Linked DNA regions of Homo sapiens. The protein of the gene in region 1 interacts with the protein of each later gene in a pairwise test. Each region holds a gene or a part of one and is shown in the gene's direction. Other genes may lie near its edges.

The links. Proteins that work in one complex are often made in the same cells at the same time.
Region 2: the proteins of PDLIM5 (region 1) and NOD2 interact in a two-hybrid assay, tested with the Homo sapiens proteins (one large-scale study listed by BioGRID).

The regions. Positions count from the first base shown.
Region 1 is NC_000004.12:94,457,564-94,462,487, forward strand, and holds part of PDLIM5 (PDZ and LIM domain protein 5), read left to right. Parts: intron 1-4,924. UniProt on the Homo sapiens protein: May play an important role in the heart development by scaffolding PKC to the Z-disk region. May play a role in the regulation of cardiomyocyte expansion. Isoforms lacking the LIM domains may negatively modulate the scaffolding activity of isoform 1.
Region 2 is NC_000016.10:50,717,008-50,721,931, forward strand, and holds part of NOD2 (nucleotide-binding oligomerization domain-containing protein 2), read left to right. Parts: intron 1-2,917; coding exon 2,918-3,001; intron 3,002-4,924. UniProt on the Homo sapiens protein: Pattern recognition receptor (PRR) that detects bacterial peptidoglycan fragments and other danger signals and plays an important role in gastrointestinal immunity.

The DNA.
Region 1 (4,924 bases):
GAAAAAAAGTTCAGAAACAAATTGACACCTAAATGAGCCAAACTTAATTATCACTTTGTTGTGTGGTAATAGAAATGCAAATAGAGTATGTTTGCGAATTTTGTGGTACCGTGTCTTTAAAAAAGTTTCATGTGCTTCAGTTTCCTGGCAGACAGTTTGAGGTACTAGCTCCATGTTGTGATGCTGATACAACAGAACACTGTGTACATACATATGTGCCCTCCCCTGGCACAGAAGAAATGCTTTCCTTGTGTAGACAGAGTGCTAATTAAAGGATTTTGAACATACTGATTAAAAGAGACTATGGTAACAAAGCTGCTGAGTTATTTCTGTTCTCTTACAAAAGTCTCTGCCATCTACTGTGACCTTTTTGGGCCTTGTGCAGTGGGGCATGCAATTCATTCTGGACTGGAGAGGATTGGAAGGGGAGGGGAAGGAGAGAAGGGAATGTTGGCTCAATCGGGCTGCTAGGCTCTTGGCCTTTCATTGTAGTTATTTTTAACCCCTTGTGTGGTTTAAATATGCCTAGTAACATTGCCTAATAAAGGTTTGCGTTTAATAACTAATTTATATTGTGGTAAGATTGTTAATGTTATAAATTTTTAACTTACTCTCATCTTAATTAGTTCTTTGGTTATACTTTTTCTGCCTTAATTATGTAAAATTACTGGGATATTACTGGTCATCAGGTTCTTTAATTAATAGTATCAAGAAACAATTAAAACCTGAAAGCATGCTTAAAACATGTAATTTAATGATTCACTTACTTTAATAATGCACATGAAATTCTTAGCAAGGTCTGGCAGTCTCTCAATTATCTTTTATAATAATATTATAAACTTTAAAAAGAAAACTATTTAGAGACTTGAAACATTAAATATTTAACCCCCGTAGTTGTAGGGAACATACAGTTATGGTTTTGTTTTGTTTTTTTAAACTTATTGTCCACTGAAATTAAGAAAGGAAAAAAAATCAGAAGTTTGTACTTAGCTGGGAATCTGCATCTTTAGAGTTCAAAACTGTGCAATTTTTCCTCTGATTAGGTATTATTATGTTGAACTCCAAAGGGTCATTTACATTCCTTTATAACACTGGAGCTCTGGTGTATCGAATTGTGTTATGAGATAAGCCACTAGCAGGGACTTGAACATTCCATTTTCTTTAGATTTTGTTGTATCAGCATGTGAATATGCTGAATACAACTTGTATCCTAAAGCATACAAGCTATAACATTTTCACGTTGGACTCAAATTTCTTCATCATCTGTATTGTATGAATTTTGTATACTGTTTTGTTGGTGGATTTCTAACATAAGATTGCCAGTTCCTGCTAGCTTTTTAAAAAGATCCTCAGGTTGCTGTAGCTGGATGATCACATGTCATTTAATTTCCGATCCTTAAAATGGAGTGCGGGCTACCTAAGTTTGCAGGCTGTCTTTTTATGATCCTGTGTTTATGGAATTGCCCTGAAGCCATGGAATGTGAGGATGGGTTTCATTGTAGCAGTGTGGGTTTGTTGGTTTTTGCCAGTATATTTTATAACAAGAAATAGGAGACTTGTTGGATAATTCAAGGCTATATTTTGGCCAGTTGATAAAGATTATATATTTGTGAGTAACATCTTTTAAGTTGTTATATCCTAAAGTTGAAATACTCTGCTGTGTGTTACTTTCTCATTATGTTTGGGCTCTTTTCTTCACTGTCAATATTTGGATTACCTGAAGATGATATCCCAATTCTCTGTAAACACATTTTAGATGTTTCTTTAAGAGATAAGAATTAGGTCAAACTTTTTAACATCTAAATAACAATGACTTTGATTCTCAAGAGTTAGGGGAGGATAAATTGTTATAAGCTTGGACAAAATTCTAATTGGATTTGAAAAGCAGAAGAAACTTACTATTGCTTGGATTATGGAGCCCTGTTTGGGAGTCTAACACAGAACAGAGAAGGACAGAATTGTGAAACACTTTGCTATGAATTCATTGATTCAGTAGTTATAGTAATACTTCCTAGAAGCCACTGAAGAAGATACAAAGTGGGGAGTACAAAGGTTGGATGGAAAAGAAATAAGCACAGTGCTATAGAACTAGACAGTGTCGTAAGACCTGTCACAAGTCAATATTCTATGAAATGACAGATTCTGATAAGTGTTTCTCAGTTTCAGTGGGTGTAAATCTTTTGTTTGTGGGGGTTGGTTTCCTTTAGGAGAAGTTAATTGAACTGATCCTCAAAGGATGAAATTTAAACACCTCAAAGTCAGCATTTCTCCGTGTTGTCCAGTGCCTAGTGAAGATGAAGACTTTTCTTGCCATTGCTTGACTCCAAGTAAAGCTGTGAATGTAGTTGAGCGATTCTCCAGACCTGCCAGCTGCAGTTTCCCTCCTACCGGAAGACAGAAAGACTTTCAGTCCTCAAGCTGAAATGAGAGAGCCATCCTACCTTGAATAAATGGGCCCATTGTTAATTTTAAGCTCTTGAGTATTTTCTTTTATATTCCCTCCAAGCTACCCTGTCATTATGCCAAGTTAGAAAATTAATTTAGTTTGTATAACTATATGATGTATATTTCACATGTGTGTTCACTCTGCTTTAAAAATATTAATTACCTTTTGTGTGAAGTTCAGAGACCTGTCTTTTCCCATGTGGCAGTTTTATATGTTTTGTGGTCACAAATGTCAGGAATCTCAATGTAATTCTGGATAAATTTTTCTGCTCTATGATTTGTAAAGAAATGAAAATCTTATATTTTTTAATTGAAAATTAGTAGTTTTAGAAAAAAACGCACTTATTTGATTTTAGTAAACGTTGGGCATTTTGAAAAGTTATTCAGAGAAATGTTACTGGTAGGCAGGACTTTTGTATCTGATGGAGGAAACCGATGTAGGGTTTGGATAAAATAAGACTAGCAGGCTGGGCACAGTGGCTCACTCCTGTAGTCTCAGCATTTTGGGAGGACAAGGTGGGAGGATCACTTGATACCAAGAGTTCAAGGTTACAGTGGGCTGTAGTCATGCCACTGTACTCCAGTCTGTGCCACAGAACCAGACCCTGTCTCAAAAAAAAAAAAGAAAAAAAAAAAGGTAAGAATAGCACTTTAGACCTTGGGAAAGAACGTTTTCATGTAACTATTCATCTACTCGTGAGTTAGGTATATCTACCTACTTAAACTAAGAATAGATAGATAATAGATAATGTACAGCTGTATATTGGAATGACTTGGATTTAAATCTTAGCTGGAAAATCAGTTCATTAATTTGAGCTTCTGATTTTCTTTGATGTATGGGAAATGCTTTATAAATTAAAAAGTATACAGGTAGATTTGATTATTATTAATAATTTGGAGCCTGTGAGCTTTCAATTTTTTTTAGAACTTCTGAGGCAAAGAGCTTTTCTTTATGATAGTTGCTAGTCACACTACATGTGAATACACAGTTGAACAGTGGTCTTTGTCTATGACATCCTGTTAGCAGTAGTTCTTACCCAGATTCCCATATACCACAGGACCAGTTATATCTTTTTCCCCCAGTTACAACTGTATTGAGGACAAATCAGTTATGATTTAGTTATTTCTAGAAGCAAACGTTGCTTTAGACAAAAAAGGAGTTATTTAGCATCGTATGAGAGAGAATTATGTTTCAACTTTGGCAGATGAGACTCTAGGCCTTTATTTCAGTATCTGAGATGCAAAAAATATTGAGTACGTGACATAAAATTTGACAAAACTAGATATTAGCATGTGAAATAACAATATGTGGATCTGTTTGCAAATAAATGACCTAATGGAAATGAAAAGAGAAAACATTAAGTAACTAAAGAGCAGTGACCATGGTGTCTACTGATTCTTTAGGTATTCTATGTGTTGGGCCACTATATAGTCTTGTTGAGAAGGCAGGTTTGGTTCCTTAATTAACAGAGAGGGAAAAATCACTTTTCTAGCGTACTTTGTTTTTATTAAGAGGTTTTTTTTTTAAAGGTAATAAACTAAGAATGGACAAAGCAGAGAATATTGAATGAGTATCCCCTTATTCCTTCACCTTTCTTATTTTTTTGTTTCCTGTTTAAGTATAGTTATCTACCCTTCTGTAAATACTCAGATTTCTTTTATAGCTGATGTTGTCACCCATTTTTTATGACAATTACTAGAACAGAGTTCACCAACCTTGTTGGCATTTAGTAACTGGACTCCCAACTGGGCTAAGCAGTTGTAGTAAATGTCCCTAATAGGCGTAAATAGAGGAGAGTAAAATGAACTGGAAATGTTAATAGGAGGGAATGAGAAAGAAAAAGTTAGATGAGAGAAAAAAATAAAGAGGACTTTTTAAAAGGCTGCAGCGTGTCACCCAGGCGGGAGTGCAGTGGCGCGATCTCGGCTCACTGCAACCTCCACCTCCTGGGTTCAAGCAGTTCTCTGCCTCAGCCTCTTGAGTAGCTGGGATTACAAGCATTCGCCACCATGCCCAGCTAATTTTTTTGTATTTGTGGTAGAGACAGAGTTTCACCATGTTGGCCAGTCTGGTCTCGAACTCCTGACCTTTGATCCAGCCACCTCAGCCTCCCAAAGTGCTGGGATTACAGGCGTGAGCCACTGCACCCAGCTTAATTTTCTTTAGGTAAGACATTCATATGGTTCAAAATTCAAAAGATACACGAGCGTATAGGGGGAAATGTCTCCTGGTGCCCTGCTGTTCATTTCCTCCTCCTGGAAGCCACCTGTGTTAGTAGTATACTTCCAGAGATAATCTATAGGTATATCTCCTCCCCACCCTCCTTTTAACACAAATAGTATGCTTAATAGAAATACTTTTTTTTTTGGCATTTTGTTCACTTAACCCAACATCAGTAAATATATCTTCATTCTTCATTCCTTTTTTACCACTACACTGTGTTTGGATTTGTCATAATTTTTTAAATCAGTTCCTATT
Region 2 (4,924 bases), on another chromosome or scaffold:
ATTTTTTGCCCCATTCCTGAGTCAGTCTGATCTGGTCTTGGCCTGGCACTGCCCACACTGGCTCCTGACCTCCTGATTGAATGCAGGGACAGTGTCTCATTTTAAGCAGGGGTTCTCTAATGCTGTGATCTCCCCAGTAAACTCTGGACTAGCTCTGCTGAGGACTTCCTGTCTTTTGACCTTTAGCCCGTAGGGCAAGAAAGCTTTTCTAGGCCCCTTTCCTTTTCTGTGTCTAAGAGTGTCACAGCTTTCTGGGTTTACTGAGTTCCACGATGCATGTTGAGCTCGTCCTGGTGGGGGAGGCATACACAGTTACTTGCCACCCCAGCTGTGGCAGCGAGTTGCTGCAACACTCCCAGGAGGTCCTTTCACCACTCAGAGCATGCAAGGTTTGCAGTCCATCTGGTTCTGCATTTCTGCTACTCCAGTGTCTCCCAGTTTCAACAGGAGTCTCTCTCTCTCCTACCTGATGCCTTTAAATTGCCCCTCTAGCTGGCCGCTGGGTTGGCCTGGCTTCTCTCTCCTTCTCTCTCTCTCAGATATTCTTGCCTCCTGTGATTTGTGAGGCAGTAAAAAAAGACAAAGTAAAGAATTGCTTCCATCTATTCTTTTACCTCTTGGGCTGGGTTTGTGGATGGGAGCCGCCATTTTAAAATGGCGGGCCACATAGCTCAGTCTCGGCAAGGGCTACTGAGATCAGAACCACAGGTGCCAATTTGTACAAAGGACTCAGTCCTGCTACCACTGCCTGATCCCTCAGACTCACAAGCCTGGAATAGGCTGTGGCCAGACCTGGCTGGCCCATCCCTGAGAAGGGTGCTAGTTTCAGAAATGGAGGCTGAGTTTGTGGCCAACACAGTAGTCCTCCGGTATGTGCAGGAGAGATGTTCTAAGACCCCAGTGGATGCCTGAAACCATGGAGAGTATCAAGCCCTACACATACCATGCTTTTCCCAATACCTACACACCTGCAATAAAGTGTAGTTTATAAATTAGGCACAGTAAGAGAGTAATAGCAACTCATAATAAAATAGAACAATTATAACAATCAATGTACTATAATAACACTATGTGAATGTGGACTCTCTCCATCTCCCTCAAAATATCTTCTTGTACTGTACTCACCCTTCTTCTTGGGAAGATGTGTGGTGGTAAAATGCCTGTGTGATGGGAGGAAGTGAGGTGGATGACGCATGCAGCACTGTGCTCTAGCGCTGGGCTGCTGTTGACCTGACCACACTTCAGGAGGAGAATCATCTGCTCCCAGAGATCCCTAATCTTTGAGCAACAATGAGGTCGGCAGCTGGATGTCAGGAGCAGACGATCTTGATGATTACCAAATGGGAGCGTATAGAGCGTGGATGCGCTGGACGGGGGGCTGATTCACGTCCTGGGTGGGATGGAGCTGGATGGCACGTGATCAGAATAGCATGCAATTTAAAATGTATGAATTGTTTATCTCTAGAATTTTCCATTTAATATTTTTGGACTGCAGTTGATTTCAGATAACTGAAACCATAGAAGGCGAAGCTGCGGATAAGCAGGGGGCAGGGATTACCGTATATCATTGTAATAGAGAGCACAGGCTCTGGAGCCAGACTGCCCGAGGTTTGAACCCTCATTAGCTGCGTGACCTCAGGTCAGCCCAATGTCTGTGTGCCTCCGTTTCCCCTTCTGTAGAATGGAGGTAATAACCCTGGCTACCTCACAGGCTGTAGTGATGAGCAAGCAAGTTAATCCACATGAAGGGCTGCACCGTCTGGCAGGGGCTTTATATAGTAAGCGAGTGGCTGAAAGATGATGGGTAAATCACACAAGCACTCAGCTTGTTTCTCCTTATGTGAGTCCGGTCCTCCAAGCAGGGATTCAATGTGCCACCCATTTATTGGGGAAAAGTCCTAAAAGGGGAAGTGGGGAAGGGAGCTGGGGGAGGCTGGGAGGTGTGTCCCTGAGTGAAGGAGAGAGGGAAGGAAGGAAGGTTGAGACTGGGCACCTTGGACTTCAGTGCAGTCCTAAGACATCTTGGCAAGGCTGATGAGGAGTTCTTGAACCAAATTCACCAGGCAGGGGAGCCTGATGTCTCAGGCAGGGGCTGGCAAGTGCAGATGCGAGGATGTTAGATTTTGGAGCACAGCAGCTGGGGCCCTTGGCTACCTCCAAGGAGCTGAGGCTGGAGACCTGAAAGGCGAGTTCTCCTAGCTGCCACACCCCTTCTCCAAGGATACAATAATATCTGCCTTATAGGATTGTTGTGAGCTGAGTGGCTTGACGTTCCTTGAAAGAATGAAAGCGTATAGTTATCCCAGGAAGCCTAGGGTTGCAGGTGAGAGCTCTGGGGCTTCTCCGAAGCTCTCCGAGGTGTCTGGATTCAGTTGCAGCAGGAGCCTTCCTTGCTGGGATCTTCCCCCACCCCTAGCCTTGGCCCTCCCTCTCTCCTTCCTTTCTGGAAGGCTCAGTGGGCCCCACCCCTCCCTCCAGCCACCTGGACCTGCCCAGCGCTCTTGTGCAACAGGTAAAGCCTACCTGTAGCAACAACAGATCTGGGAAGGCTGCAGAGGGCACGATGGGGTCTGGATCGAGGGCGGCTGAGACCAGAGGGAAAGGTGTGACCCTGAGTCACCCTCGCTGTCCCGGGGAAACCACCTCCCAGGACAGCTGCCTACTGTGGCTCCTGCCTGGAATTGTCACACTGCTGTGCAAACAGCGTCCCGCTGCCCCTTTCCCTTTGCTGGGGGAAAATGAAGTTGTGGGAGCCGCTGAGTAAACTAGACCTAGCAGCGAGGGCACCTGATGTGGCTGCTGCCTCCCGGGCAGGTCTTCAATGCTTTCTTCCTGTGTTTCCCTGGCCAGGGCACAGACGGCCCTCCTTTTCTGCCTGCCGCTGTGTTCTCTCAGCCTCCTCTGTCTTCCCTTCCAGGCTGGGGAATAACTACATCACTGCCGCGGGAGCCCAAGTGCTGGCCGAGGGGCTCCGAGGCAACACCTCCTTGCAGTTCCTGGGGTAGGTTGGATTCCAGGAAGAGGGACCTGCATGGAGGGGCTTGGGACTTTTGAGGATTTAGGGGCAGGTGAAACTCTTCAGCCAGGAGGCCCCAGAGGCAGCCCAGCTCCAGTGGGGAGGACAAGCCAGGGAGAGAGTGGGCGGCCCTTGACTGCCACCTTCATACTTGGTCTATGCCTGACAAACAGGAAGTTTGGGATGTTGGGGCTAGGGGAGGACAGTGCCCACGAGCTGGTGACAGGAAGCCCTCTGATCCTCAGGGGGCGCTAGGGCTGTACTTTAGCTGCATATTAAAACCACCTGGAAGCTTCTAAACACTATTGCCAGGCCTCCCACCCCAGACTGATGAAATGCAAATATCTAGGTGCAAGGCCCAGGTATCAGGAGTTTTAAAAAGCTTCCCAGGGGATGTACAGCCAGGGGTGAGGACCCCTGACCTAAGAAAGAGAAGGAAATGGGGAAGGATAGGAAGGCACCCAGGATAAGAGGGGCTGTGCTAGGTCCCTCGGAGCTCTTGCTCCCTGTAGGACCATGCTAGGGCCTGCCAGGGAGGGGAGTACCCCAACCTGCAGCCCCAGGGTGGGCTTCCTCTGTTTGCTAGGCACCCAGGCTTGCACCTGTGCTGTTTCCAGCAGCCTCTCTCCTATCCTGTCATGCCCTAGTGTGAACTGGAGTCCATTTGACAAGAACTGGGAGTTTTAGAACCTGGGACTGTAGGAAGAGAGAATAACCTTAGGGCCTAGGTGTTCCAGCCCATTTCACAGGGAGGCAAGTTGCCCCCAAGCTCAGTTTTTTGTTTTGTTTTGTTTTGTTTGAGATGTAGTCTCACTCTGTTGCCCAGGCTAGAGTGCAGTGGCACGATCTTGGCTCACTGCAACCTCCGCCTCCTTGGTTCAAGCGATTCACCTGCCTCAGCTTCTCAAGTAGCTGGGATTATAGGCACCCACCACCACGCCCAGCTAATTTTTGTATTTTTAGTAGAGACAGGGTTTCACCATGTTGGCCCGGCTGGTCTTGAACTCCTGATCTCAGATGATCCGCCCGCCTCGGCCTCCCAAAGTGCTGGGATTACAGGTGTGAGCCACCGCACCCGGCCCCCAAGCTCAGTTTGAGCCACAAATGGGACTATGTTGCTCTAGAAATCAACATCTTTTCCACACTGCATTAGTAGCAACAGAGTCTAGAACAAAGGAGGCCACAGCCCCACTGAACTCTCTTCTGCTTGAGGTCACATCTGCCACATCAGGGGTATTTACCTCTTTCAACACATATTTATTAGGGCACCTGTCTGGGCCAGGCGTTGTGCTAAAACCCCCAAACGCTGTCATATGATACAAAGTGTTCTGTAACTTGCTTGGTTTTTTTTTTTGTTTGTTTGTTTGTTTTGTTTTGTTTTTGTTGTTGTTTTTTTTTGCTTCGCCATATATTATAGGAATTTTTTTAGGTCATTATGACCTCTTTATTTACTTAATTATCTATTTATTTATTTTACTAATATTTACAGAAAGGGTCTCACTCTGTCACCCAGGCTGGAGTGCAGTGGTTGCAATCATAGCTCATTGTAGCCTTGAACTCCTGAGCTCAAGTGATCTTCCTACCTCGGCCTCCTGAGTAGCTGGGACTACAGGCACAAGCCACCATGCCTGGCCGATATTTTTATGTTTTGTAGAGACGGGGTCTCACTATGTTGCCCAGGCTGGTCTCAAACTCCTGGGCTCAGGTGATCCTCCCTCCTTTGCCTCCCAAAGTATTGGGATTACACAAGTGAGCCACCTTGCTCAGCCTGACCTCATTTTTCAAAGAGCTGCAGAGTGTTACATAATGTATTTAACTGGTCACTTTTTGATGACTATTAAGTTGTTTTCAGGTTTTTTGTTATTACAGTGTCATATCCCTGGGGCACAGAGCAGTGCTGGCACATAG